4 linked regions of the Homo sapiens genome follow. The protein of the gene in region 3 interacts with the protein of the main gene of each other region in a pairwise test. Each region holds a gene or a part of one and is shown on either strand. Other genes may lie near its edges.

Region 1 (7,302 bases), on a different chromosome or scaffold from region 3:
ATAATGGCCATCAGAAAATTAGATTATACCCTGATCGTGTACTGTTTACTAACATAGGTGAAAGAGTCCAGAAGATCTTGGCACATGGTAAATAATAAATGAAGAAAACAACCATTTGCCAGACGCTTTTCTGAGTGTTTTTATATGAATTAGCTCATTTCACAGTAAAATGTCGCATGAAATATGGTATGGATAAGGAAAGTGAGCTCAGAGAGACAAAGCAGCTTGTCCAAGGTTACAGAGGTAATAAGTGGGAGGGGTGGTATTTGAGTCTGGACACCACCTCTTTCACCAATCTGCTATAACGTATTGCCTCCCACAACACATGAGATGCTTTACATCTACAATCAGGGGATGTTGGTTAACAAACGATTTGATTGTTTTCTAACTTCCCAATCCCAATTATTAGATTTGTGCTTTTCTTTCTAATTGGGCAGGTGAAAATCATCATAGTAAGCATAGTTATATGTTATGGTTTTTCATTCATTAAAAAAATGACTCCCAAAGAGTAGAAGCATGGTAGATTATCATCTATAAAACAAGATGTTTGAACAAGGGCTTTTTCTGGATTTCTAATTCTGGCTTTCTAAAATACTATTCTTTTTATTTTTTATTTTTATTATTTTTTTGAGACAGGGTCTCATTCTGTCACCCAGGCTGGAGGGCAGTGGCACCATCTTGGCTCATTGCAGCCTCTGCCTCTTTCCTATCTTCTTATCCCCAGGATTTTTAGAGTTCAAATGAATCAGAAAACAAGCCTTTGAAAGGCCAATAGTTATTATAACACTTACCTTTCTTGACTAACGGCACTATTTCTCAGAATTTCAAGTTCATTTAATGACATTTTATGCCTTTCTTTTATTTCATTTACTTTCTGATGAGCTTTGTGGAGTAAGTTAACAAATTTGTTTCTTTCATTTCGAATGGTGTCATACAGTTTAGCAAACTCTCTCAGTCTGTAAAAATACAAAGTGTTTACTGAAACTTATGAAATGAACATCAGGTTTTTTTCCCCTCACCTACGTAGATAAAACACCACATAATTACTTTACCTCCGATAAATTTCACATTTTTTCTTCTTGTGTATCCTGATTTCAAGATCCTTTGCTTTCATTTCTTTAACAATGTTGGTGTATTTTTGCTGAAATGTACAAAAAAATGTGAAATAAATAACAACATATGAACACTCCCAGATTTATCCCACATCATTCCCTTCCATTAAAGACAATTCTCCAGCCTAGGCAACATAGTGAGACCTCATCTCTACAAAAATAAAAAAATTATCTGGGTATGGTGGTGTGCACCTGTAGTCCCAGCTACTCAGGAGGCTGAGGTGGGAGGATCGCTCGAGCCCAAGAATTCGAGGCTGCAGTGAGCCATGATTGCATCACTCCGCTCCAGCCTGGGCGACAAAGTAAGATCCTGTCTCTCCAAAAAAAAAAAAAAAAAAAAAAAAATTATTTCTTGGCTTGCTGGGTTGTACAGATCAGGGTGAAGGGTAAAAGAGATCTGAAAATTCCCTGGCTAGCTGAACTGATTCACATTGGCTAAGACAAACTGTTAACTGTTACCTAAAGAAGAGAACAAACGAGAGAAGAGAAAACGCAAAGAGCCTGCATGGCTTGGGTTTGAGGAAAAGTTTGGACAACTTTTGAGAGAGAGGAAGAGTGATTTTGAACCACACAGCTGGACTGGGTGAGTGTAGTTTATGGAAAATAGATGAGAGAAGAGGATTCCTAGTAAGTTTTGGTGAGTGTTATAAACTGAACCCTCTGTGGTGTTTTGTCAGAGACTGAAGCAATGATTTTAAAGTGCTTTCCATTCTTTTGTATGTGGGGTGTTTTCCTACATAATAAGGCATCATATTGAGATCAGCTGTAAGGAGGTGTTACACATAAATATTTTAAAAGAAAGCAGTTATATTTCTAGAGTTCTAAAAAATATATCAAGTGCTAAATACACTAGTTATGTTCTTCAAATCAAAAGATACTGGTTCTTGCATCTGGGATAAGAAACATATTCAAAAATGAAGGATTTGCTGGTAGTAAACCAGAGGAAAGAGTTTGTCAGCCTTCTCTCAAGGACTGAGAGCAAAGCCCTTTTGGTATGAGTGATTTGAAAGAAACTAGCCATAGAGCCAAGATTGATGTGTAGCATTTTTCTAATGCTGTTCTCCATGAGAATAGGGGTCAGGAAGAAACGAATATTTAAGTAACTGTACACATGAATAATAAAACAGATGGGAAAATGTAGTGTCATCTATTCTGTCTTAGGGGTGATAGTGACATTGTTTTTTTTTCTTCACCTTTGTCTTTAGGGATGTGGATGCAATGTGAACATAAAAGATTGCCTTCTTATGGAAACTGCAGCTAAGTACAGGTAATGTTTAACACACTAATTCCTAATGCTAAAAATACTCAAGGGATAAACATTTGTCCTTTATCAATTTCTGTATCTCAAGAAGAATTGTCTATTTTGGTTTAATACAAATTAGCTCATTTAATAATGAGGTTTGCTTTACATAGATTAGTCACACATAGATATACATGTATATCAGTTTTTGAAATTAATTGAAAATTATCTAATTCATAAAACGGATCAGTGTTTCTTATAACAAATAAGTATACCTCTGGTGTTTCTGTAATTTCTAAAGAGAAAAGGGAGGAAGTTTCTAACTAGGAAAGACTCACTTGAGTGGGATCTTCCCAGCCAACACCAAGTTGTCCCAGACCCTGACTTGGTGAAGATGGCTTTCTTCTTCCTTCTTTTCCTTCCTTCCCTCCCTCCCTTCCTTCCTTCTTATTCTTTATTTTTCGTTTTTGAGACAGAGTCTCGCTCTGTCACCCAGGCTGGAGTGCAGTGGCGCAATCTCAGCTCACTGCAACCTCCGCCTCCTGGGTTCAAGCGATTCTCATGCCTCTGCCTCCTGAGTAGCCGGGATTACAGGTGCCCACCACCACGCCAGGCTAATTTTTTGTACTTTTAGTAGAGATGGGCTTTCACCATGTTGGGCAGGCTGGTCTTGAACTCCTGACCTCAGGTGATCCACCCGCCTTGGCCTCCCAACGTGTTGGGATTACAGGCGTGAGAGACCGCTCCTGGCCCAAGATGATCTTCCCACATCTCTCCTCTCTCCTCTCCTTGTCCTGCTCCTGCATCTTACCCGCTTAGCCACCCTGTGCTTTGAAGCTGCCTTTCTTTCATCCAGTCCTCCCTGACCACTTCTTTACCTAGTGAAACCCAACTACTCCATGAACTTCACTCTTGCTGCAGCCTTCATTATGGAGTCTAAATTGTTTAACATGGATTAAGTGACTTTCATCATCTGACTTGTCCCGCTCTCTGGTCTCACTATTTGACATCCTTTCTCCCCATCTTCCCATGTGCCAGCCATCCTGAACTTCTTTTAGTTTCTTAAATATTAAAGTAGAAAAATAAACAGTGAAAGGGGGATGTGAAGTGCCTGCAGTGGGTTGTGCAATGTAGATCTTCTCTTTTTTGCAAAAATCTACTTCATACCTCATTGCTCACTAATGCTTTGGCGTGAGTGAGCTCTTTCTGCAGAATGAGAAGAAATACCATTCTATGTAAATCCTTACTTAGACTGAGAACAAGGGATGTGCTTAGAAACAGACCAAACAGACCACATCTGGGTCATGAGATAAATTCTTTTTTTTTTTTATTTTTGAGAGGAAGTCTCGCTCTGTCACCCAGGCTGGAATGCAGTGGTGCGATTTTGGCTCACTACAACCTCCACCTCCTAGGTTCAAACGATTCTCCTGCCTCAGTCTCCCAAGTAGCTGGGATTACAGGCACCTGCCACCATGCCTGGCTAATTTTTGTATTTCAGTAGAGATGGGGTTTCACCATGTTGGTCAGGCTGGTCTCAAACTCCTGACCTCAAGTTATCCACCCGCCTCAGCCTCCCAAAGTGCTGAGATTACAGGCATGAGTCACCATGCCTGGCCTGATAAATTCTTCTATTTTAGTAATATGTAATATCCTGTTTATTTTTAACAGGGAGCTTCTGGGCATGATCTGGACATAATCCTTATATGGAATAAACAATTCTAATGGTAGAATTTTAGCTTGCATGACAGGAGTGCTGCCTTACCATTTGTTTTATTGTTGATTTTAGGGGGGAATGTTGCACTGGCACTTTGTAGGAGGCCCAGGAAAATCATGGTGTGATGAAGCAACTAAGGGTATCTGGCATTCGATTAAATGATGCTGTCTTGATGAAGTTGGGAGGGACAGTTACCTAATGCTACCACTCTTGAGTTGTTCCTGGACAAATCACAGTGGAGTCTGAGATGGGAGTGAAAACTAAATGATATCTGCAGCCTATGCAGCTGCCAGCCCTGTCCACTGGAGGCACCCACTTTATTCTTACTGAAATTGCCATCTGTTCAAATCCTCCGATCATTATCAATGATCTCCTTTCCCATCTAAATTGTTGATTACTGTTAATTGAATCTTGGGACTATCTTTCAGTGCATGATTGAATCTCATTTAGGGAAGATTTATAGTCACTGGTACTTGAAGGAGAGGCACAGTTATAGTGGTTCCTTGGTATACATAGGGAACTGGTTCCAGGACCCTTTGAGAATACAAAAATCCAAGCATATTCAAGCAGTCCCAAAGTTGGCCCTGTGGAACTCACCTGTAAGAAAAGTGGGCCTTCCATATTTGCAGGTTTTGTATTCTGTGAGTACTCTACTTTTGATCTGCATTTGGTTGAAAAAAATCTGTGTATAAATGGACCCATGCAGTTCAAATCCATGTTGTTCAAGGGTCAATTGTATAGCTTTTCTTTTTTTTTTTGAGTTTCCTTCCAGTTCTTTTTTTAATATTTATATATTTTTATTATACTTTAAGTTCTAGGATACATGTGCACAATGTGCAAGTTAGTTACGTATGTATACATGTGCCATGTTGGTGTGCTGCACCCATTAACTCATCATTTACATTAGGTATATCTCCTAATGCTATCCCTCCCCGCTCCCCTCACCCCACAACAGGCCCCGGTGTGTGATGTTCCCCTTCCTGTGTCCAAGTGTTCTCATTGTTCAATTCCCATCTATGAGTGAGAACATGCAATGTTTGGTTTTTTGTCCTTGCGATAGTTTGCTGACAATGATGGTTTCTAGCTTCATCCATGTCCTAATGCACGTGGCATTATAATGAGGCTACCCTGAACTCTTGTAGTTATCAATGAATGGTTAAAAAAATGCAGTTACCTGAGCTTTCAGGAAATCCTTGGACTTTTGTTCCTTTTCATCAATTTTGATTTGAGTCATGCGGAGAAGGTTGACTACTAGCTCTTTCATGTTTTCTTGCTCCTTTAAAAGCTTGTTTTCTTCTGCAAGTTGTTGTTCTACTAACTTAGACTCCATTTCTGATATAATTTTCTTTTGAAAAAAAACACAGATAATATTATAAGTTATTTGTTTGAAGTAATACAGTAAAGCTAGTATCTTAGACTACCTTTTTACTTCCTATACAAAATGTATTTTTTTAAACAGGCCAGGTGTGGTGGCTCACGCCTGTAATTCAAGCCTTTGGGAGGCTGAGGCAGGATGATGACTTGAGGCCAGCAGTTCAAGACCAGCCTGAGCAACATAGCAAGATCCCTCTCTATAAAAAAAATAAAAATTAAAAATAAAGTAATGGTGTTTTAGCTTCATTGTTTTCATTTTGTAAAATAATGTGAAAATCGATGGGTTAACATGATAGAACCTCTTTGTATTTAGACTGTATTTTCAAGTGACTAAGAAAAAGAAGACACATAAAAACAAACGAAAATTTGAAATTAGACATTGGTGAAATAAAACATCTGTGGTTTACTTTTAATGTAATCAACAGCCCATAATTTAAAAATCTCATTCCTTTGAATACTTTTTGCGGTTCAAACATATTCTTTTTTCTCAAATTTAGTGTAGGATTGGAGTGGACTTTGAGATGAAGAAATATGCCCACATGAAGCAGGATCATACTCTCTTTGATGACTCTCTTATTGATAAGGTTTTGTGGAGCACAGTTAAAAGCACAACTTTGTATGAACGCTTCTTAGATAGAAGCTTAAATGAGCATTGATATTAACCTGTTGGGCCAAATTCCTCTTAGCTACTTCAACTTCCTTGTGAAGCTCTCGCCTTCTCTCAGATAATGTAGAATCATCTTTGGGGATAGCTTCCATCTGGAAATCAAAATTTAAAAACATGCATTTATGTAAGAAATAAATCTTTGGGAGGCTGAGGCAGAGAATTGCTTGAACCCGGGAGGCAGAAGTTGCAGTGAGCTGAGATCGTGCCACTGCACTCCAGCCTGGGTGACAGAGTGAGACTCTGTCTGAAAATAAATAAATAAATAAATAAATAAATAAAATTCACTGCTGTGTAGTCAACCTCATCACACACTTTTTGAAAATGCTGAGCAAATCACGAATCTCAATCTTATAAGAACTTCCCTTTATGCCAAATATTCTTTATAAGCCATGGCAAATTAAAATATGAAGACCTGCCAAAAATCTATAATTTGCCAGCTGCAAATGTTTATTATTTAGAAATAAATCTTACTAATAGCTAACATTTATTGAACATAAACCAAGTGTCCAGCAAGGTTCTAAATGCCTGTGTATACGATCTTATTTCATCATTACAATACCCCTCATGAGGTGGGGAATATTTTCTCCAATTGTACAGATGAAGAGAATGAGGCACAAACACATTTAAGCAACTTGCCTCAATGGTGCAGGTGTAAACCCAGGGAGGTAGACTTGGAACCCATGATCTGCCTAACTCATCTAACTCATGACCCAGCACTTTGGAGACATGAATATACTATGACTATTCAAATTATAGTTATTATAAAATGTGAGTACATTTATGAAATTGTATAGGATAAAGAAAAATATGTAATTTATTAATAATAGTGGGGATAGTTTGCTACTTATATATAGTCATTTGATTAGTAGCTGGAAATTTCTTACACAAAAGAAAAGCCTCAACTTTTTGGTTGATACCTAAAATTTCACCATTACATTTCTGTTGTAACGGCTTGCACTTTTCTCCTGTGTTGACGTACTTTAGGGAAAAGGCAAATCTCACTCTTTAAGTCTTTGTTGCCCTATTAGGAATGAGCTTGTCAGATTCTTTGTGATGAAGACGAGAGTAGAGAGGAGGACATGTGGCAGCTGATGGGGAAAGGGTACCATTCAAGGCTACAGGGAGGGTCATCTTGGGGTGCTTCCAGCCTACTTGACTTAGAGCAAGTTTAGAGTTGGCTATTTACACCAAAAGC
Region 2 (7,980 bases), on a different chromosome or scaffold from region 3:
AGCTAATTTTTTTATTTTTGGTTTCACCATGTTGGCCAAGCTGGTCTCAAACGCCTGACCTCAAGTGATCCGCCTGCCTCAGCCTCCCAAAGTGCTGGGATTACAGGTGTGAGCCACCACGCCCGGCCTGGAAAAGGGAATCGTAACTGAGCTCCAGACATCTCAGAATACTGCAGGAGTGCAACTGCGAATTTTTAGGGGCCCTTCAGCATCCTGTACCCACTCTGTATCTCACCTCCATGCCCTGGGGAAATGGGCACGGCTGCCCTGGGTCCGAGGGTGGGTAGAAGTCAGGAGGCAGGAAATTTTCGGCAGCAGAAGCAGGGCAAGAGTAGGGGCTGTCAGTGTAGGCAGCATGCGTGTTGGGGTCCCAGTCTGGAAAGCCCAGGCTGCTAGGTCCAGAACCCACAGTCTCCGAGTGTGCTGGGAAGGGAGGGTGGCCTGCGTGTAAGAGGAGGGGCAGGGGCAGGTCTGGTTACCAGAGTTGGGGACGTCACATCCAGGGCTAGAGGGCCTGGCGTCTCCCAAGGTACTGAGAGTTAGTACTTCTGGGACACCAAGCTCCCGGGACCTGGATTCCTGGGACACTGAGGAATTGAGGGCCTGGACTCCTGGGGCACTAAAAAGGCTGAGCCTGGGCCCTGGGGCTCCGTAGGACTATGTGCATAGACTACTGGACTCAAGAGAACCTAGGAAATCAGACTGCTACTGAGTTCCAGCAAGAATGAGGGCCTACCAGCCTAGGCAACATAGCCAGACCCCGTTTCTACAAAAATTTAAAAAATTAGCCAAGCAAGGTGGCATCGCCTGTGGTCCCAGCTACTTGGGAGGCTGAGGCGGGAGGATCACTTGAGCCCAGAAGGTTGAGGCTGCAGTGAGCCAGATAGCGCCACTGCACTCCAGTGCCAGGGCAACAGAGTGAGATCCTGTCTCAGAAAAAAAAAAAAAAGGGAAGAATGAGGGCCTGACTCCCAGGTGTCCCAAAGTTCTGAGAGCTGCGATGTCTGAGTCCCTTAGGGAAGGGGGATGGGGAGGCCGGGAGCTGAGAGAACTTACCAGTCACAGCCTCATTCACAGATGGGGTCAGGGGCTGCTCTGGGGGAGGGAGAAATTGTCCCTGTAGAGACAAAAGCAAAAAGGAACCCAGGTGACTTTATCTGGCAGATTCCTCCGGGTCTGTCTCGGATCTATAAGACATTTCGGTCAGGACCACCCCTCTCATCAGCCCCGAGGGCCCGGCAAGCCGCTGAGTCCCTACGGGACAGCACGGGGCCTCCGGAGAGCTGTGGCTCCCTGGCCTCACCTGCACCCCGCCAGCGTCGGGCTGCTGCTGCTGGCGGCGCCTCTGCTCTTCCAGAAGCTTCTTCACGGTTTGCGTTGGGCAGTGGCTGCGCTCACCCCTGCTCACTGTGCGGGAGAGGAGAGGGGGAAGTCATCAAGGGTCCTTAAGTCACCTAAATGCCGCGGGGGTGGCGCGCGGGGAGTGGGTTTGGGCACCCTCCTCGCCCTCCCGCGCGGAAAAACTGGCACATAGATGCCGCCTGACTCCTCCAAAGCCATTAGAAGATTTGGGGTGGGGCATCCGCCTCCGCCGTTTCCTTCCTTTTGCTCCGCACTTTCCCTCTGACCCAACTTTCCACCACCGTCGCGGAAAGTGAGGAAGGGGGAGGAGGGCACCCCTCTGCAGCAACCACCCCACTTCCGTAAAAAAATTCCACCCCCAGATATCCAAGTTTTGAAGTCAGCGGGTTGGTGGGGGGCCGGCGCCAGGCGTCACTCCCTAGACTCACATCCAGGTTCCCAACATTTTTTTCCCTAGAACCTGACCCGGAAATCAGGAGTCCCCAGCGCCCCTCCTCGAGAAGTCAAAGGCCTCACCCCGGGCCGGGAGCGGTGGCTCACGCCTGTAATCCCAACACTTTGAGAGGCCAAGGGGGGCGGATCACCTGAGGTCAGGTGGCCAACATGGTGAAACCCCGTCTCTACTAAAAATATAAAAATTAGCCGGGCGTGGTGGCAGGCGGCTGTATATCCCAGGTGAGGCAGGGGAAACACTTGAACCCGGGAGGCGGAGGTTGAGGTTGCAGTAAGCGGAGATCGCGCTACTGCACTCCAGCCTGGGCGACAGAGAGAGACTCCATTAAAAAAAAAAAAAAAAAAAAAAAAAGGCCCATCCATACAGTCTCTTTTTCAGGCCCCAGGAATCTGGACCCTCAGTTCCTTCCTCTCTAGGACCTGGGAGCCCCAGTTCCCAAACTCCTTCCCACGACTCAGAAAGACAGAACCCTCACCCTTCCGAGCCTGGGTTCCGGCGGAGGAAGGGTTAAGTGGGGATTGCGCGGGGCGGGGGCGGGAGGAGGTGGCTCGGAAACAGCCCCGACGCGGCGCGCTGACGCCACGGCGCTCACGCAAGGGAATCTTCCATCCTCCCCTTCCCCCCAAGTCCTGTGCCCCAGGTGTCCTGCTCCGAGGCGGGGCGCGCGGCCGATCGTGGCGCTCGTGGAATCCCCGCGCAAGGGGAATTCCTGCTCAGCCCCGCACGGGTGGCCATCCGGAAATCCCAGGGCGGGGCAGAGGCAGGGTCACCGCCAGCGTAGACCCTGAGGCCAGGCTCCGGACCCTTCCCCACCGAGACCCACGCCGATTTTAAGCAACCACGCCCCCCCCCCCCCCCCCCGCACTCAGCCTAGTCCCTGCTTCTAGGGGTAGGAGTCTCGGTTGCCAGCAACCCCTAGCACCTCCAAGGACCCAGAGATCCAGCCTCCCAAGCCTCCCAGCCCTTGCACCCTCGGGGCCCTGCGATCCTGGATCCCCAGGCCCCTGCACCCCCAGGACCCAGAAGTCTGGGATCCCAGCCGCCCCTCTGTCACGATCCACGATCCCCTCCTCCTCCAAACACCTAGGGCCCTCACTCTCGGGATAAAGGACTGACGCTTCAGCTCCGTCCCTCAGGGCCTCGGGAGTCTTTCGATCCTCAGTCCCTCACTCTCTTAGGGGGCCGAACGCGTCCTGCCCGCGCCCATTACCTCGGGGATTCCGTGGCGTGGATTGCGGGCCCCCAGGGCCGCGGCCTCGGCGCTGCGCCAGCCTCGCTGTTTCCCCCGCGGAGCCGCCGCCGGGTCCCCGATCTTGGGTCCGGTACCCGCGAGTTTTTAAACTAGGGGTTATGGCACCGCCCAGTCCTGGGCAGGGCCCGCCCACAGGCCTGGGAGTCCCCGGGTCGCGCTCCGGCGAACGCAGTCCCTGAATGGGCGCGGCGGACTTGGGAGGCGGACTACTCAGTCCCCCCGGGAAGGAGGGAGCTGGGGTCCAGATCTTTGCTCTGAAGGAGCCTAGGGCACCGGGCTCCAAGAGGAGGGAGAAACCGGGGGGCCTGGATTTCTTTTCTTTTCTTTTTCTTTTTTTTCTTTTCTTTTTTTTTTTTTTTTTTTTTTGTTGTTGTTTTTGAGAAGGAGTCTCTGTCGCCCAGGCTGGAGTGCAATGGTGCGATCTCTGCAAACTCCGCCTCCTGAATTAAAGCGATTCTCCTGCCTCAGCCTCCCGAGTAGCTGACACTACAGGTGCTGGACACCATGCCTGGCTAATTTTTGTATTTTTAGGAGAGATGGGGTTTCACCGTGTTGGCCAGGCTGGTCTCGAACTCCTGGCCTCAGGTGACCCGCCTGCCTTGGCCTCCCAAAGTGCTGGGATTACAGGCTTGAGCCATGGTGCCTGGCTGGGGCCTGGATTTCTGGGTCTGTGTCTAAGGGGGTGCTGGAGGCTTTGTCTCCTGGGTCCTGCCCATGGGGGTAGGGGTAGGAGTGGGGATGGAGATGGGGTGGGGGCAGGGAGAATATTACTGGGTCCAGAGGGAGGCAGGACTGGGGGTCTAGACTCCCAGAGGAAGGGTCTGTGGGTAAGGGTATAGGGTGTGGCTCAATTTCTCCCTCTCCCCTACATCACCCTTTTTAGAGGTCTGGTTTCATTTACTCATTCATCATTTAAAATAATTTATTGCAGCAGAGGAGGCATTTTGCTGTGTATTGTGAACTAAGCAGGCAGGAATTCCCAGCCCTGGAGCTGGCATTCCAGTGGGAGGCCACTCTCAGTTTCACTTGGTGACCTTTCACAGCACTGACCATGTTGGCCCTATTTCTCCCCTGCTTGCTTGCTTTTCTATTTTATTTTATTATTACATTTTTATTGTTAGAGAGAGGGTCTCATTCTGTCGCCCAGGCTGGAGTGCAGTGGCAAAGTGGTGAGATCTCGGCTCACTGCAACCTCCACTTGCCTCAGTCTCCCAAGTAGCTGGGATTACAGGAGCCTGACACCATGCCCGGGTAATTTTTGTATTTTTGTAGAGACGGGGTTTCACCATATTGGCTTGAACTCCTGATCTCAGGTGATCCCCCCACCTTGGCCTCCCAAAGTGCTGGGATTACAGGCATGAGCCACTGCGGTGGCCTCTCCCCTGCTTTCAAGATGCCATGCTCTCAGGGGTCCCCTCCCTCTTTCTCCATTTCCCTGGCAAAGTTCCTCCTCTTCCCCCATTCAGTGTGTGTTGTGATAGGGGCAGAATCCTGTCTGCACTCACTTCCTTGGTGATCTCACCCAGTCTTGTGGCTTTAAGTACCATCCATAAGCCATCAACCCCCAAATTTACATCTCCAGACCAGCCTTATCCCCTGAACTCCTAAATGCAGTGAGGTTATTCAGCATCTCCACAGGGAGATTGTCAGGCATTTCCAACCCTGTATGCCCAAACCTCGTCACTTTCCCCGCAAACCCACTTCCCTACCTTTCATCTCTGCCAGCAGACACTCCCATCTTCTCAGCGTTTCATGCCAGAAGGCTTGGCTGTCTAGGATCCCTCTCAAACACACCCACATTCATTTAATCAGCAAATTTTCTTGGCCCTACCTCCAAAATATTTCCAGATCTCCCTAGCCTGCACACCCTTGCCACCTGTCATTCCCACTTGGACCAGGCCAGCAGCCTCCCTGGTCTCTCTGACCCTCCCCCTGAGTTCGTTCACCAAAGGCAGTAACGGAGACACCCCCTCAACACACACAGGAAGCAGATGGCCTTGACACCAGCAGGGTGACATCCGCTATTGCTACTTCTCTGCTCCCCCACAGTTCCTCTGGACTTCTCTGGACCACAGTCCTCTGCCAGACCCCTGCCAGACCCCAGTCCACCATGATCCATCTGGGTCACATCCTCTTCCTGCTTTTGCTCCCAGGTGAAGCCAGTGGTTACAGGGGATGGTAGGCAGAGCGTTTGTGAGATGGGTGCTTGGGTGACGTCTGCAGGGACGGGTGATGAAAGTGGGGTTCTTCTCCCTGCACCCCTTCCCTTCTGGGAGATCCATTCTGCTTCAGGGCCTGGGTCCTTGGGGGCGGAAGGGGGTGAGACAGGGAGTTCTGGAGGGGCTGCCTGTTAGCGTCCCCTTCTCATGGCTGGGTCTCTGCTGCCACTTCCAATTTCTTGTCACTCTCCATGTCTCTGGGAGTCCCCTTCCCATGTGGTCCTGTTCCATCTCTCCAGCCTGGAGATTACTTCTCAGGACACTACCTTTCCTTCTCTACACCCTATTTTTTGGTTTGTTTATTTTGAGATGGGGTCTTGCTCTGTTGTCCAGGCTGGAGTGCAGTGGCACAATCACGGCTCACGGCAGCCTTGACTTCCTGGGCTCAGGTGATCCTCCCAGCTCAGCCTCCCGAGTAACTGGGATTACAGGTGTGAACCAACACTTCCAGCTAATTTTTGTATTTCTTGTAGAGACGAGGTCTCACTATGTTGCCCAGGCTGGTCTCGAACTCCTGGGCTCAAGCGATCTTCCTGCCTCGGCCTCCCAAAGTGCTGGGATGACAGGCGTGAGCCACGGTGCCAGGCTGAGCATTCTGTTTTGTGGACCTTCTCTCCACCCTCATCCACCTTCTTTCTCTTTCCACAGTGGCTGCAGCTCAGACGACTCCAGGAGAGAGATCATCACTCCCTGCCTTTTACCCTGGCACTTCAGGTATCACTTCCACCCCAGAAGCTTGGCCAGAGGCTCCCAGAACACCCCAGTGGTTCTCCAGGTCACCATCCCACCTCCCGTCCCCAAATCAGAGGATCCGTGTCCTTCTCCGAGTCCCAGAATCAGCGACCCCCAGCCTGTGTTCAGGAGCACCCCGTGTGCCCGCCGCACAGCCCCGAGGGTCCTGGGACACCCCAGCCTCTCTGCATCTGTCTCCCGTTTCATTCCCCAAGCGCAACTCCAAGGAACCTGGGACCCGCCCCCTCGCAGGGGACTTCCTCTCTGCCTGTGGCCAAAGCACAGCCCCAGGACGCAGAGCTTGAGTTGTCTCCCTGTTCCGGCCCCCACTCTCCAGGCTCTTGTTCCGGATGTGGGTCCCTCTCTCTGCCGCTCCTGGCAGGCCTCGTGGCTGCTGATGCGGTGGCATCGCTGCTCATCGTGGGGGCGGTGTTCCTGTGCGCACGCCCACGCCGCAGCCCCGCCCAAGGTGAGGGCGGAGATGGGCGGGGCCTGGAAGGTGTATAGTGTCCCTAGGGAGGGGGTCCCAGGGAGGGGGCCCTTGGGGAAGCCCTGGAGGAGGTGCTGGGGAAACCCTGGGGGAGGTGCCTGGGGGAACCCCTGAGGAAACCCCTGAAGCAGGGGGTCCCCAGGGAAGTGGAGATATGGGTGGTCAAGCTTCATGCTTTCTCTCCCCTATCCCCAGAAGATGGCAAAGTCTACATCAACATGCCAGGCAGGGGCTGACCCTCCTGCAGCTTGGACCTTTGACTTCTGACCCTCTCATCCTGGATGGTGTGTGGTGGCACAGGAACCCCCGCCCCAACTTTTGGATTGTAATAAAACAATTGAAACACCTGTAGTCGTATTCTTTCTCAAAGAACCCCAGAGTTCCCAAAGCCTCCCTCCCATGAACTGTTTCTGGATCCAAGGCCCCCTCAGAACCCCCACATGTCCCCATCCCATCAGCCCAAGGATCTGGCATAATGTTTTTGTGCTTCATGTTTATTTTAGGAGAGTATTGGGGAGCGGTCTGGTCTCTCAGGGATGGCACTCTGTGGGTCTGTATCGCGGTAGGAGTTGGAATGAGGTGCAGGGTGGGCTTCAGGAATGGCTGGATCCAGGTATCATGTTGCTGACTGTCATGATTCGGGCTCATTTGTAATACGGCCTCTGTGTGTTGAGGTCGCTGTAGACATCCGACCTCTGACCCTGGAGCTCCTAAAGGAATGGGGGCCATCAGTGGAAGGGACCCACCAAATAAAATCCAGCCTTCTCCCAGTGGCCTGCAAGGCCCCTGGCAGCTTCTTCAGCCTTATAGCCATGAAAGAGATCCGGATTTTATTCAAGTACATTCAATGTTCCCCCTTCTCCTCTGCCTCATCAGTGTGCCCCAGCCTCAGGGTCCCTGCGTGTGCTGTTTCCTCTGCCTAAAACTCTGTTCCCCTAGATCCCCTCTCCCTTCAAGTCTCAGCTCACGTCACCTCCTCAGAGAGGCATTTCTCAATTTCCCCTCTGTAGTTTCTTCCCCCCACACTCCAGCCACTGTAAAAAAAAAAAAAAAAGCCTGTTTATTTCCTTTACTGTGCCTCCCAAAATTATTTTATTTGTTCATTTGCTTTAAGTTTGTCTTAACTAGGATATAAACTCTGTCACTGTGTCCCCAGCATTTAGCACTTATAGGTGCTAGACACATCCACAGAGGGAATAAATACATCCGGGTAATGCTTTGCCCTAAAATTTCACTGCCACCAGTAACTGGAAGGGCCCCTCGGTCTTCTGGATATCACAGAGCCAAACCTGAGATTCTTAGACTTCACAAAGAAACTTTATCCACAAGTGAGGTGAATAGGCAAAGCTGGTTGCAGACAATATATCAGACTTCACACAGCAGTGTTCACACTTGGGGTAGGGGGAGGATCTATGTGGCCCCCAGGGGCAGGCCTCAGACAGAAACCCTAAAATCATATATGATGACTAGT
Region 3 (7,715 bases):
CAAAGCTAATACACTTCTATACACCCCCCTACCAGATTGTCAGCCTCTTAGAGGCAGGAAATATTTGTATTTACTTCTGTGCCCCAGCCCCTGGCAGCATGCGTAGCACAGAAGCTGCGCTTGATGCATGTTCACTGAATGAATGGAGGAGCGGGTGAGGAAGTTCCTTGTGCTGGTGGTCCCTGGGGAAGCGGAGGCCGTTCAGGTAAGGAGCTACTAATTGACAGGACATGCAAGCTCATGAAGTTTTCCACACATTTACCTTTCCTCTCCTCCAGATTATGAACAGAGCCTTCTGCTTTGCTCATGGACACGAGTCTGTCTCCTCTGCTAGGCTCAACTTGGAGGAAACTTGCTTGAATGGCCCACTGACTGACCAAACAAATAATTGTGCATCAGAGCAGGCAGGGCAAGTTGGGATCTTGGCAGATGATACAATGCCTTCCCCAACTTGGTGGCTCTTTCTCCAGGGCAGCAGAAGAAGGCACCTTGATCCCTTTCCCATGAGAGGAGGGCAGCATTAGCAATTGGGACTGTGGCTTGAGGGAGTGAAAGATTTTGGCCCAAATACCCAGTCCACTACTTACTTGTGTGACCTTGGACAAGATATTAACCGTTTTGAGCCTCAATTTTCTTGACTGTTAAATGGGGACAATAATACTTAATTAACATGATTCATTGAGATAATATATTCAGAGTGTTTAGCATGGAGCCTGGCCCAGTAGATGTTGGCTATGATTATCTACTGTATTATTATCACCTTGGTCATCATTATTCTTGTTGTCATTATCACACCATTCCATTCTATCCAAGGACTAGGTCTCTCACCCCCAGCTTCTTTCCTGTGGTCTCCAATGACTATCCCATTTCTCCTGGGATGATGAAAACCCCCCTACCTTTAACCTCTCCACTCTGGGAACCACCTGCATCTGCTGAAGGATAAGAAGCTTCATGTGTATGTCCAAGTGGAGAGGCAGAGGGGGCCTCAGCCTCAGTGTTAGGAGTTAGAAATGAATCCCAGATCTGCCTCAGTTCAGTCGGTTGAATCATCATGCGACCCCAGGAAAGTCACTTTACCTTTCTGAGCATCCTGGGGCTGGACTGGCTTTTTCTGTAATTCATGGGTTATTAATAGATATTTAAAGATTCCATGGTCCAGTGCACTTGGGAAATACTGGTTAAAGAAAGTTAAATAATAACACTTGTAGCCAAAATTATAGTAACAAATACTATATAAAAATAACATTATATAATAATAATAATAATGCTGTTTGAGTGCTATTTGCCAGGTGTGATAAACCTTTTACAAGCACCATTACATTTATCACTTGAAGCAACCCTCTGAAATAGGTATCCTCCTCCTCCTCCTCATCATCATCATCTCTATTTTACAAATGAGGAAATGAGGTTTCCAGGGCTTCTGGTACTGTGCCTTGTGAAACTCCAAAAGAGAGTCAGAGAGAGCAGAGTTTCCGATCTTATTTGACAGGGATCTTTTTTCCTGCAGGGATCTCATAGTGCTGGGGTTCTGTAGAATCCAGTTGGGGAAGGCTGGGCAGGATCCTCCCTGGGATTCCTTTGAGCTCACCATTCCATACCCATCACTTCTGACCCTCTGTACCCCTCTTCTGCAGACCCCAGACCTGAGACTGGAGACATGAACATTGGATGGATGCTCCTCTGACCAGGTTCTGCCCTCCTGAAGCCAGAGGCTGATGGGAGCCTCCTGGTTGTGAGCACTGTTTCCTAAATGGGAGCAGCAGCTTGACCTCCAGTTCCATCTCTGGGTAGGGCAGCCTCTACAGACTGTTCTCCTGAGTCCTTGATGAATCAGAAAGTGCCAAAGGCCACATACCTCATGGCCAGGCACTGTTTCTGGCCAGAGAGAGGGAACAAGGTATTCTCCCTAGCCCAGCCAACAGTTCAGTCTGGGGTTGACTGCCCTTGGCACTGGCATGATAAGATTTTGAGGGAAGGCACCCAAAGGAGTTGTTTTGGGGGCCGAGACTTCCTTGGAAGGGAGAGCAGGGCCTCCGTTACTCTTGGCTGATGGTCAAGAAGCTGGAGGCCAGAATCTGATACTCCTAGCGGTGGACCTTTGGCAAATTACTGCCTCTCACCAAGCCTCTGTTTCCTTATCTGTAAAATGGAGATAAGAATACCTTTTCCACTGGGCTGCTGTGAGGATCCAGTGAGATCTGAAAAGGCTCTAAACTGTGCTACCCTGTAGTCAACTGTCCTTCTGTTTATGGTCTTAGAGTAGGGGGCTGGGACTCCAAGTGCCTCTGAAGGTTAGGGAGCTCAGAACACCTTAATCTTACGAATGGAACTGTTGATTCTATTCTTTGCCCTTTAATACAAAGTCCCTCCCCAGACCCCCCTATCAGGCCAGAAAAACAGAGCTGCCTATTGGGGCTTTGTGTGCATGGCAACTATCTGGCCAATCTCCCTTCCCGCTAACAAGGAGCAGGCCTCCTCATCAGTGCCTGATAAGGGAATGACTCAGAGCTGACCAGTCACAGGGTGCTGGCTTTTATGGCTGGTCTTGGACTCCCCTTTCTCCCTCTTGGGCTCTCCAAAGACCTTCAGTCTTTCTGCAACTGATTCACTAGTTAAACAGCCTCAGACTGGCCTTCCTGAGGGCTCAGAGCGGTTCCTGGTGGGTTAGGGGTGTGTATTTACGGGGTTTCCTGCCCCAGTTCAAGGATGAGTTGGCAGCTAACAGGTAGTTTGCTGGGAACTTAGGTTTCCGAGGCTGGAGACAAGTCTCCACCAGTCACAGGTGACCCAGGTGATAATACACAGAGAAGAGGGCTGAGCTGGGCCACCCCTCTTTTCATGAGGGAAAACTGAGACCCAGAGATGGGCAGGGACTGGCCTGTCTCCCTTAATACCTTCTCAGGAGGGCCTCTGTTCCAAGCCTGGGTGAATGCTTTGCCATAAGGACAAGAAGGAACCATGGGGACAGTTCTGGGGACGGGGGTCACTGGGGACAGGAACTGGGGTGAGGTTGTTGCAGCGCCCTGTAGTGCCTGGCAGGGGGCATGGCCCTCCAAAGAGATCCAAAACGGTGGGTGGAATTGTTGAACAGAGCAAGGGGTGGGGCTGTGTGGGGAGGAAGGCCCTGCCTCTATTGTCAAAACCTTTACCTTGTGCCGGGCACTTTGTGTCGCTCTGCCCAGCTCATTCAAGCACTCATCTTTATACAAGGATGAGGACATGCATTCAGCAGCCCTCTGACAAGGAGGGCAGGGATTCATCCTATGTTTGCCTTTCAGTGGCAGATGCTAAATGCCTCATGGGCAAGTTACTGGCCTCTCCCAGGCTCTGCTTCCTCATTTTGGAAATATTAAAGCAGCCCAATACTCCTGTGGTTGAATGAACGCATGCTTTGGGGGATGGAAGGGAGGGGATCATCCTGGTGGCCAGGGACGAGTGGGCTTTGAGGGTTCCAGAGTGAGGATCAGGCTGGAGCTTAGTGTTGGAAAGGTGTCAGCTGCCAGAACCGCTCCCTGCAGCTGTTCTCAGGAGACTGTTGTCACCTGGGGCACTGAATGGCGACAGCAGGGTGAGGCAGCTTTGTCTTGAGAGGGCTGGGTTCGTGCAGCTCAAAATGCCCGGATGTGCCCTGATCCGGAACTGGTGCCTTTGTCAGAGGGGACAAAAGGGGAGTTGGGCATGGGTGTTCCCAAGAAGCTGGTTCTGAGAGGCTGTAATCTCCAGTGGAGGGCAGGAATCTGTGAATGCACTTTGTGGGGGGCGGGCTGGTTAGGATCGCAAGCAAGGGGCTCTTAACAGGGAGCACTCTGAATGGTTAATCACTGGGGCTGGGCGCAGGGGCTCACGCCTGTAATCCCAGCACTTTGGGCGGCCCAGGCGGGTGGATCACTTGAGGTCAGGAGTTTGAGACCAGCCTGGTCAACATGGTGAAACCCTGTCTCTACTAAAAATACAAAAATTAGCTGGGCGTGGTGGCGCGTGCCTGTAATCCCAGCTACTCCGGAGGCTGAGGCAGGAGAATCGCTTGAACCCGGGAGATGGAGGCTGCAGTGGGCCGAGATCACACCACTGCACTCCAGTCTGGGCGACAGAGACTCGTCTCCAAAAAAACAAAAACAAAATCACTGGGTCAGGGGTGTGTAGGAATATGACCCCAGAGGGACTGTAATTCCCAGTGGTGTCAAACTCTGGGTGATCTTAAAGGGTGAGGCTCAGAATGTGGCTTCCAGGGACAGGGGTGTCCAGGTATGTCCCTGACGGGGGAAAGGCCAGAACAGGGTCTGCAGAGAGAGAGTGGGGGAGTGCGGGTCGGAGCTTCTGCGCGGACCGGGGCGGGGCACCTCTGGAGGGCAGGGGCCTCTGGTCTCTGGGAGGGGAGGGAATTGACCAATGGGGAGAGAGCCCATATTTGCTCTCAGGAGCCTGCAAATTCCTCAGGGCTCAGATATCCGCCCCTGACACCATTCCTCCCTTCCCCCCTCCACCGGCCGCGGGCATAAAAGGCGCCAGGTGAGGGCCTCGCCGCTCCTCCCGCGAATCGCAGCTTCTGAGACCAGGGTTGCTCCGTCCGTGCTCCGCCTCGCCATGACTTCCTACAGCTATCGCCAGTCGTCGGCCACGTCGTCCTTCGGAGGCCTGGGCGGCGGCTCCGTGCGTTTTGGGCCGGGGGTCGCCTTTCGCGCGCCCAGCATTCACGGGGGCTCCGGCGGCCGCGGCGTATCCGTGTCCTCCGCCCGCTTTGTGTCCTCGTCCTCCTCGGGGGCCTACGGCGGCGGCTACGGCGGCGTCCTGACCGCGTCCGACGGGCTGCTGGCGGGCAACGAGAAGCTAACCATGCAGAACCTCAACGACCGCCTGGCCTCCTACCTGGACAAGGTGCGCGCCCTGGAGGCGGCCAACGGCGAGCTAGAGGTGAAGATCCGCGACTGGTACCAGAAGCAGGGGCCTGGGCCCTCCCGCGACTACAGCCACTACTACACGACCATCCAGGACCTGCGGGACAAGGTGGGCGGAGGCCCGGCCGCGGGAAGTGCAGTGCACCTGCCGCGGAAACCCAGCCCCGCGGGCCGGGCGAGGTTCCAGGCGGGGCGGCGGGCAGGAGCCCGTTAGGACGTGGGAAGGTCCACAGGTGGGGCCGAGTAAAGGGGGACAGGAGACGTGCGGGGCAGGACCTCGGGGCTGGATGCAGAGGCCGGGGTGGTGGAAAGGGGAGGAGAACTGGGCAGGGCAGATAAGTGGGTGGGGCCTCTGGAGGTGGCGGGGGCAAGGTTGGAGCCCCGGGACGAAGAAGGGACGCGGGTCAGCGAGGCCTGAAGAGTGGGAGGAGATGGGACCCGGCTGTAGAGTGCCCAGAGGTCTAGGCCAGGGGCCGCGCTGCCGCAGGAAGATGCGAGAGTTTGGCTTTGGTGATCTGGTCCACCCGGGGCCAGTCTTGCCCCCTCTGCCACCGCAGCGTAGGGCCTCCTGCATTCCGTTTCTCTGGCCGGAAGGGTCTAGTGTTCATCCCTCTCAGGCTTTGGCCTCCTCCCACTCTCCCGCCCTGGGGCCCATTCGTTTAGGAAGAATGGGAGAGCCGGTCGTGGCCCCTGGGCGGGGTAAAGGAGGGAGGCTTGGTAAACCTCTGCTGGGGAGGACCCAGTACAGTGGCAGCTCCTTGTCGGGGAAAGAACGGATCTGCGTCACACGCTCTTACAGGGGAACCCTAAGGGGCCTGAGGGGTAGGGCTTGGTCTCCACCCAGAGGGAAGGAGAAATTTTTCGAGTCGTAAAGAAATGTATCAGAAGCCATGGAACATTTACAGCCGCACACGCTGGGTCTCCCAACAAACAGATCCCCAAAATATTTTCCAGTGCTGTACTCGTGGCATAGACCCAGACCCACAGACCAGGAGGAAGCGCTAGAGATGTCAACAGCCAACAAAAACAGTGCTTTACACACTTGTAAAATTGTGACCTACAGGGGCTGGGCACTGTGGCTCACGCCTGTAACCCCAGCACTTTGGGTGGCCAAGGTGGGAGGATTGCTTGAGCCCCAGGAGTTCGAGATCAGCCTGGCAAACATGGTAAAATCCTGTCTCTACTAAAAATACAAAAATTAGCTGGGCGTGGTGGTGCATGCCTGTAATCCCAGCTACCTGGGAGGCTGAGGCAGGAGAATTGCTGGAACCCAAGAGGCGGAGGCTGCAGTGAGCCGAGATTGCGCCATTGCACTTCAGTCTCGGCCACAGAGCGAGAGTCCGTCTCAAAAAAAAAAAAAAAAAAAAAAAAAAAGGAATTAGCTTGGCATGGTGGCGTGTGCCTTGCAGCGAGCTGTACGTGATCAGTGCCACTGCACTCCAGCCTGGGGCAACACAGCGAGACCCTGTATCAAAAAAAAAAAAAAATTGCGACAATAAGTACATTTTACTACGCACCCTTACGCATTCTTTTTCTCACCTCTGTGTGTGTGTGTGCGTGCACATGCACACACACAAATGGGTGACACAATTCTCACCATACTAAGAGAAATCCCCTCTGATATTTTGTAGCCTATTCTGTTGCATTAAAAAACTACACAATCGGCCGGGCGCGGTGGCTCATGCCTGTAATCCCAGCACTTTGGGAGGCGGAGGCGGGCGGATCACGAGGTCAGGAGATCCAGACCATCCTGGCTAACACGGTGAAACCCCGTCTCTACTAAAAATACAAAAAAAAATTAGCTGGGCGTGGTGGAGGGCGCCTGTAGTCCCAGCTACTCAGGAGGCTGAGGCAGGAGAATGGCGTGAACCCGGGAGGCGGGGCTTGCAGTGAGCCGAGATCGCGACGCTGCACTCCAGCCTGGGTGACAGAGCGAGACTCTGTCTCAAAAAAACCCCAAAAAACAAAACCAAAAAACCCCCCCAAAACACAAAACTATACAATCACCACCTGGTGCCTTGACTAATGAGTGATGACCTGCTCTTTGAAAAACAGAACACAATTACCTTATTCAATGATAAGCTGGCTGTTGTGAATGCGCCTCTTAGGTCAGTAAGACCTCAGGTTGGGGTGAACTTGGATGAGGCATCATCCTAAACTTTAGTTTCCACCTCTGTAAGATAGGAGTACCCACTGACCTAGCAGTGAGGTTCCAGAAGCTATAAAAGATGAGATTCAAAGTGCCTGGCACATAATTGATACTCAACAAATGGGATTCTCTTCCCTGGGGGCAAAATATGCTTCGCATAGTGGGGGGGGCAGGTATAGACAAAATCTACCCCCCATCTGGTTTATAGACCCCCTTCAGGCCATTTAGAGTTTCATTGCACACAGGTCTCAGAGATTTCCTCCCCAGGCTTGCCTTCCTGCCCTCCCCCACCCAAGTCCCCCTGGCTCCAGTTTTCTTCCTGCCCCAGCTTCTGGGCATGGACTGTTTGCAAGGCCTCCCAGAGAGCGGGCCAATGGGCGGCAGATGCTGGCTAGGGCTTTGGTCTCTAGGGTGCCGGGGTATATTCATTTGCTCCCCTCTCTCTTCTGGGAAGAAAGTGAGTGGGCAGTGCCTGTGTGTTGAACTGGTACCAACCTCTGCCTCTGCCTTCCAGATTCTTGGTGCCACCATTGAGAACTCCAGGATTGTCCTGCAGATCGACAATGCCCGTCTGGCTGCAGATGACTTCCGAACCAAGTGAGTGTCTCTGTCCTGGGGGCTGCAGAAGCCAGGACTGGGGTAGGGGTTGGGGGGTTTAGAATCTGCCCTCA
Region 4 (7,302 bases), 1.7 Mb from region 3:
CTCCACTGAGGCAGACGGAGAGCAATTAGTGCCTTAATGGTCGTGTAATTAGCCCTAGAGGTCTCTGCTGTTGTAACCCTTCAGAACAAGAATGACAGATTGAAACCTTCCTACTTAACTCTTTCTAGTTTCCACACTGGGCTCTGAGGAATGCACTTCCTAGACAAGGAATGCTCATTTCTCTCACTTACCAGAATGTGTCCTAAGATGCCCCGTGAGCGCATCTCTTCTTTGGCATGCATAGTTGCAGAGGTGACACTTAAAAGGTTTTTCCCCTGTGTGCAGTTTAATGTGGCGGAGGAGGTTACCTTTCTGAGTAAAAGATGCCCCACACTGATTACACTGGAATGGGCGTTCACCTTTAAAAAGGACAAAAAAGGAGATTTCTGGTCACAGGCAAGTGGAGAAACATATGCACAGATTAGATGCCTAGGGGAAAAGCTCATCTTTTAGACAATTACTGTTCACATTGGGATCAGTTGGGAGCTGCATTTCAAGGCAAGCCTAAGACTTACTTATGAAATCTCCTCTGTAGAAGAGAAAAAGCACCCACTAGCAAGGCTATTTTAGGTATCATATTGAATCAGAGCAAAGAAACAAGAGCAGCTCTAGAAGTGCTTTCTAGATCTAAGTTTTTATATTACTATATTACTTGGTACTCCCTTTTTTTTTTTTTTTTTTTTTTAGACAGGGTCTTCTTGCTCTGTTGCTCAGGCTGGAGTGCAATGGTCCCATCATGGCTCACTGAAACCTTGACCTCCTGGGTTCAAGTGAGCCTGTCACCTCAGCCTTCAGAATAGCTGGGACTACCAGTGTTTGCCATTATGCCTGGCTAATTTTTTAGTATTCCTTTTGAATATAATCTCCTTTGAAAAAAGAGCCAGAAACTAAAGTCCTTACAAGGTGTTGAGGGCTAGAAATTCTCCTTTTTAAAGTCTTCATATGAGATATGGGATGGAATCGACTGGCTCAAGTGCGATGGTTGTGTTTGTATGCATTTCTATAGACTACCTGTTTATTGTCTGAAGATACATTATTTTAAGCTGGAAATAAAAACTATGTCCTTTCATTTACCAAATTTGAACCCAATACAATAAGAAGATCTGCTCTTATTAAAAATGTTATGCAAAAATATACAAAAGATGGCTAAGAAGCAAATCACACAATTCAACTCCTACTTAGAAACTGAAGAAAAAGTATTTGGCTGACCTAGAACACTGTGCTCTCTACAGTCTTTTTTTATTCATAGCATTTGCAATATGTTTGCCAAATGCATGGTGAGGCAGGAATAAAAAGCACTGAGTGAACAGCAATGCAGAGAGAGAGATACATCAGCATTATAGCAAAAATCAATGAAAGTAACCAAAAGTTCCAAATTCCACCACTTCATTTCTCACGTGGCTGCATTAGGAGAGTTTTCAGAAGAATGAAAAAAGCAGACTATTTACCAGTATGGCTTCGCTTATGAACCATTAAGACATTGAAGCTGATGCAGGATAATCCACACACATCGCAGTTCATCTTTCCACTGGTTGGCCTGCTACTATCGAATGAGACAACATGTCTCTCCAACTTAATGTTTTCATATTCATTATATTCTCTTGAATAGCTGTAAGGGATTTCAGGCTCTTCTGCATTTCCCATGGGTTCTGACTTTAAAACATTCTCATCTCTTTCACTGTATTCATCTTTCACTTTCATTGAATCATCTGCAGGGAAGAAAATGCAAGAAATGAACAACGACTATACTTGAAGCTATCAAAGCAGCTCAAACAGCAGAGACCCACAACTGACAATTAAATACCAATCGAAGCTAACAAAACACTGTACATCTACAAAACAAGAAAGCACCATTAGCGTGACCGCACGTTATTTAAATTCAGAACCACAGTCAGAGGAAAACACACATACTTACACACATAAAAATAGACGATAGTGTTTTAGGCTATCCAGAAAATTACAGATAATAGATTTTAGCTAAGTTTGCTCAAAGTGGCCATGAAACAAACATTGAGCAACTCTTCTCCAGTACTAGGGGAGAGGAAGGGTTCTCAGATCTAGTACTGTTTTTGGTGGCTGCAGTTAAAAAGGCAAGGTGATGTACTCTTAGGTTTCAAGGAGAAAATATTGTTTGAATCCTTCAGATGCATCCAGTGTAAGCCATTAAGATTAAGAGTTGACTAGTTAACATAGTTTTTCTAATTTTAAGCCATGCATTGCCTCTTCCCCTTCCACGTATATGAATTGCTAAAACACATCTTATCTCTGTCTCTCTTGGAGCTGATAAAGGCACAACATTGACTGTAGAGGAAGTTGTCAGTACTAATGAAAAAGTGTTGAGAAAGACAAAAGGAAAAGTAATTCTTTCATATAACCTAAGGAGTCACTTTCATCGACACAGGTAAGTGGGGCTCAATCTAAATAAGGGGAAGGACCATTAGGTCCCAAGTTAGGGAGAACTAAACTCAAGGACTCAAGGATTGTGTAATAGGACTGGATAGGAGAGGAGGGACTGGCTCAAGTGAGTTGGCTGACCAAGTACTATCTTAAGAACTGCAATGTAAATGAATGAAATTTAAAAGAAGAGCTGTAATACTCTTCATGAAGAGCATAAGAACATATGAAGAACGTGGGAAAAATATGAAGAACATAAGAAACAAAGAAGGCAAATTTATGTACTTGCACTGACACTAGTAAAACCTAAAAATTTGCCTGATGTAAGAATAATAAACATTTGTAAGGGATTTTGCATATATAAAATATGCTATATAAATGCTTACTTTTTCAACCATTGGTCCTTAGAAATCAAAAGTTGTACCTCCCCATGAGGAATCACAAATCAATGGAGTGTAGGGCTGGAAGGGAATTTAAAGGTCATCTAATCCAACCCTCTTGTTTCTCAGATGAGGAAATCTGGGAGCAGAGATGTTTTTGGTCATTTGTCGAAGGTTACACATCCAGTTACTGGCAGAGGTGTGATTAGAATGCAAAACTTAAGCTTGAACTATCAATTACTTGGATTTGACCTCATGCACTAGACATATAAGGCCTAAGTGGGTTCTTACCAACTGTATTACACACCCTCCCATCAATGGTGTAAATGTTAAAACCCAAAACAGTCTGAAAAAAGATATTTTAAAAAACTACATCCCTTCCAAAAAACATCAGTAAGTGTTGCTCCTCTTGCTGCATAGGAGGAAGTACAACTGCAGCTGTGCCTGGCTTGCTACCTTCAACCCAAGTTTCAATTTTCACTTCTATCAAGGTTACCTTTCATCTATATTAACTGTGTTTGCTTAATAGAGCAAGACAGGGCCTAACCACCATCAGAGGAGCCAGGGCTGCCACACAGTTCCACTGCTTCCTACCACAGTTCATGGTTCACAACTTTTCACTCTTTGACTAGCAAAGATGTAGGGCTGTAGGATAAGTCCAACATGTTTCAAATTTGCCCACCCTATGGATCTGGATTATATAAGAAATGATATCTGTTTCCTACTTGGAAAGAGGTTTACTTCTTTCTCTGGATAGGTCTTCCCTGCTTTCAAGTGGAATTTGTTTGCTTAAGTGTTTATTTTTTATTTTTTTAAGAGAAGGATGCACCTGAGGCTTGTACTTGCCTCCCTTCCTCCATCACTCCAGCTGTGGGTAATATCCCACCAAAGCTTGAGTGCTCTTCAGTTTGCATGTAGGCGTTTAAAAGAACCTCAACGGAAAATTTCAGCTACTTAAAACCAAAAACAGCAGATAGAAAAGGCCAGCAGAAAAGGATCCTTTCCATTTTGGTTAGAAAATGTGAACATGACCAGACTCAGGCCACTCCATGGTCACTGAACTTTAAAATGTAGTAAGATCAATGTGTTGAGTCTTTCTGAAAACAGAGGACATAAGAGAGCTGCTCCTTTCCCTCAGGATTTTGGCTTTAGTTGGCCTGACCTGGAATTCAATACGACACCATCCTGGCTCAAGAGCAGATCTTAGCTTTAGTCCTTTAGGAGTCAGCTATAGAGCAAGGAAGACAGTATTTGAGACCCAGGGACATAAGGACACAGGGACAGGGCATTAGAGAAGTCCTTTGGGCTTACATAGTTGCTGGTTTGCCTTTGGAGTCTTACCAGTTTTAGATGAATGACCTGGATGACCTCTCTGCATGGTTACTGGGGATTAGCAACTTATTTTTATTTTATTCTATTTTATTTTTTGAGACATAGTCTTGCTCTGTTGCCCAGCCTGGAGTGTAGTGGCACGATCAGCTCACTGCCACCTCTGCTTCCCAGGTTCAAGTGATTCTCCTGCCTCAGCCTCCCGAGTAGCTGGGATTACAGGCATGCACCACAATGCCTGGCTGATTTTTGTGTTTTTAGTAAAGACGGGGTTTCGCCATGTTGGCCAGGCTGGTCTCGAACTCCTGACCTCAAGTGATCCACCCTCCTTGGCCTCCCAAAGTGCTGGGATTACAGGCCTGAGCCACCGTGTCCAACCAGATTCTAATTTATTCTAATATTCAACTCTGTTACCTTCTCAAGGTAAGCCATAATAAATTGCTGGCTGGGCATAGTGGCTCATGCCTGTAATCTCAGCACTTTGGGAGGCCAAGGCAGGTGGATCACTTGAGGTCAGGAGTTTGAGACCAGCCTGGTCAACATAGCAAAACCCCGTCTCCACTAAAAATATAGAAAATTAGCTGGGCATGGTGGCTCCCAGCTACTGGGGAGGCTGAGGCAGGATAATCGCTTCAACCTGGGAGGTGGAGGTTGCAGTGACCCGAGATCGTACCACTGCACTCCAGCCTGGGCGACAGAGCGAGACGCCATCTCAAAAAAGATAAAATAAAATAAAATAAATTAGAATTTAAGGTATGAATGAGATTCCTGAGAGATATTAGGCTTAGTACTCAGCCTCCAAACACAGTCCACCAAAACCAGGAAAGGCATTAGCCTGCTCTAATGAAGAGATTCATCCCATTCCCTGGAAGACTTATTGAAGCAGAGAAAAGGGGTGTTCTACTTAGAAAAATTCTATTAGAAAATACTAATGAACATGTCTAAAATCAAACTTGTCATCTTTGAACCCAAACTTGCTTCTAATTTATGACTTATTTATGTTGACAAATGGCATCACCCTTCTTCCAGTCTCCAAGCCATCAAACTGTGGAACCTTTTCTCTTTCAATTTCTACATCAAGTCAGTCTCCAAGATCTATCAACTCTATGTCTTCAGGCTCTCTAGGTGCCAACTCCTCTTTTCCTTTCCTTTTGCAATTTGGTTTCACCTTTCATCACATCATACCTAAATTCATCCTCTCTCAACATTCCTTTCTTTTTTTTTTTTTTTTGAGTCAGAGTCTCACTCTGTTGCCCAGGCTGGAGAGCAGTGGTGTGATCTCGGCTCACTGCAACCTCTGCCTCCCTGGTTCAAGCGATTCTCCTGCCTCAGCCTCCTGAGTAGCTGGGATTACAGGTGCCCACCACCACACCTGGCTATTTTTTTAATTTTTTTTTTTTAGTAGAGACGGGGTTTCACCATCTTGGCCAGGCTGGTCTTGAACTCCTGACCTCGTGATCCACCCACCTCGGCCTCCCAAACTGCTGGGATTACAGGAGTGAGCCACTGCGCTCGGCCTCAACATTCCTTTCTAGACAGATTTAAGACACAGGTGGTCCAGGAGCGGTGGCTCACACCTGTAATTCCAGCACTTTGGGAGGCCGAGGCGGGTGGATCATGAGGTCAGGAGATCGAGACCATCCTGACTAACATGGTGAAACCCCATCTCTACTAAAAATACAAAAAAATTAGCCAGGCGTGGTGGTGTGCGCCTATAGTCCCAGCTACTCAAGAGGCTGAGGCAGGAGAATCGCTTGAACCTGGGAAGTGGAGGTTGCAGTGAGCTGAGATCCCACCACTGCACTCCAGCTTGGGTGACAAAGTGAGACTCCGTCTCAAGAAAAAAAAAAAAAGACATAGGTAAGCTATGCTTACTGCCTCTACAGCCTCAAAAAGGACTCAGAATTCTCTGTAATATGGCTTCCGCCTCCACAATTCACTTAATCTGCTCCCTTGAATATCACCAACCATAATCTCCTGATTCCTAGATTCAGAGCCTTTTTGTATGCCACTCTCTCCAACTTCTTTGTAATCCTCAACACTACTGACCACTCACCATTCCTTGTTCTTCTGCACTCCTATGTCTTTTCTTTCTTTCTTTTTTTTTTTTTTTGAGACAGAGTCTCACTCTGTTGCCCAGGCTAGAGTACAGTGGTGCGATCTCGGCTCACTGCAACCTCTGCTTCCCAGGTCCAAGCGATTCTCCTGCCTCAGCCTCCCGAGTAGCTGGGACTATAGGCACGTGCCACCACACCTGGCTAATTTCTGTATTTTTAGTAGAGACAGGGTTTTACCATGTTGGCCAGGCTGGTCTCGAACTCCTGACTTCAGGTGATCCACCTGTCTTGGCCTCCCAAAGTGTTGGGATTACAGGCATGAGCCACCGTGCCCGGCCCCTGCACTCCTATTTCTTCAATGAAAATGTACCTTCTTTCCTTGCCTTTCTGATTGCTTCCTTCTTGCCCCTTTTCTTCCCTCTGCATCCTAAATACTGTCCTTAACCTTCTTTTTTCTTCCCTCTACACCCCTCTTGTATGGCAATTTCATTCATTCTTAAGGCTTCGACTAACATCTTATATGATTAATTTCCATATATATAACTCCAGGTGTAACCTCTCTCCCTTTCTTTAGTCCTCTATTTCTGAAGGCTTCCTAGGTATCTTCCCAGTTACTCAGGCTAGAATCCTTAGAGTCATCTTTCCTTTCTCCTGATTGGGCCCCACATTCAATCATTCAGTGGTTCTATCTGTGTATCCAATCTCTAATCTGTTTCTCCACTCCTGTATTTTGCATGCCCATTACCTAATTCTCAGACCCTATGACTTTCCCACGATCTACTTATTGCTGTAGCCCCCGCACTGTTCTCTTTGGCTCCCTTCTTTCTCCTTTCCAGCCCGTCTTGTTTGTTGCTACAAGATTGCTCTTCCTAAATTCTACCTCTGGTCATGTCATAGCCCTGTCAAAATTCTTCAATATTTTCCACTGCCAACAAAATAAAGTCCAAACTCAGAAACAAATAATTTAAAAGGCCTTTCGGGATCTGGCCCCAACCTATCTTTGGCATATTAATTTTGACTAGTTAGATCTTTAACTAAAGAGCTTCTAAGTAGTCTTATTTCTACTGCCTAAAAGATCTTTCCCCAATATGGCCACAGGTCCAAGTCCTACACATCCTACGTATTTTTTTTTTTTTTTTGAG

What was found.
Region 1: the proteins of KRT19 (region 3) and CCDC146 interact in binary tests that used the Homo sapiens proteins (3 or more experiments, as listed by UniProt).
Region 2: the proteins of KRT19 (region 3) and NFKBID interact in binary tests that used the Homo sapiens proteins (3 or more experiments, as listed by UniProt).
Region 4: the proteins of KRT19 (region 3) and IKZF3 interact in binary tests that used the Homo sapiens proteins (3 or more experiments, as listed by UniProt).

The regions. Positions count from the first base shown.
Region 1 is NC_000007.14:77,272,591-77,279,892, reverse strand, and holds part of CCDC146 (coiled-coil domain-containing protein 146), read right to left. Parts: intron 6,200-7,302; coding exon 6,104-6,199; intron 5,671-6,103; exon of another isoform or gene 5,526-5,670; intron 5,412-5,525; coding exon 5,241-5,411; intron 2,380-5,240; exon of another isoform or gene 2,318-2,379; intron 1,750-2,317; exon of another isoform or gene 1,541-1,749; intron 1,142-1,540; coding exon 1,053-1,141; intron 957-1,052; coding exon 792-956; intron 1-791. UniProt on the Homo sapiens protein: Essential for sperm flagellum biogenesis and male fertility.
Region 2 is NC_000019.10:35,897,416-35,905,395, forward strand, and holds the start of NFKBID (NF-kappa-B inhibitor delta), read right to left. Parts: upstream 3,126-7,980; 5' UTR 3,088-3,125; coding exon 3,027-3,087; intron 2,329-3,026; exon of another isoform or gene 2,292-2,328; intron 1,408-2,291; coding exon 1,304-1,407; intron 1,118-1,303; coding exon 1,057-1,117; intron 442-1,056; coding exon 236-441; intron 1-235. Other genes in the region: HCST (hematopoietic cell signal transducer), read left to right, coding at 5,179-5,221, 5,936-6,001, 6,235-6,488, 6,705-6,776; TYROBP (TYRO protein tyrosine kinase-binding protein isoform 1 precursor), read right to left, coding at 7,154-7,219. UniProt on the Homo sapiens protein: Regulates the expression of IL-2, IL-6, and other cytokines through regulation on NF-kappa-B activity. Functions in the regulation of inflammatory responses.
Region 3 is NC_000017.11:41,525,117-41,532,831, reverse strand, and holds the start of KRT19 (keratin, type I cytoskeletal 19), read left to right. Parts: upstream 1-4,523; 5' UTR 4,524-4,584; coding exon 4,585-5,004; intron 5,005-7,558; coding exon 7,559-7,641; intron 7,642-7,715. UniProt on the Homo sapiens protein: Involved in the organization of myofibers. Together with KRT8, helps to link the contractile apparatus to dystrophin at the costameres of striated muscle.
Region 4 is NC_000017.11:39,791,225-39,798,526, forward strand, and holds part of IKZF3 (zinc finger protein Aiolos), read right to left. Parts: intron 1,710-7,302; coding exon 1,449-1,709; intron 360-1,448; coding exon 192-359; intron 1-191. UniProt on the Homo sapiens protein: Transcription factor that plays an important role in the regulation of lymphocyte differentiation. Plays an essential role in regulation of B-cell differentiation, proliferation and maturation to an effector state.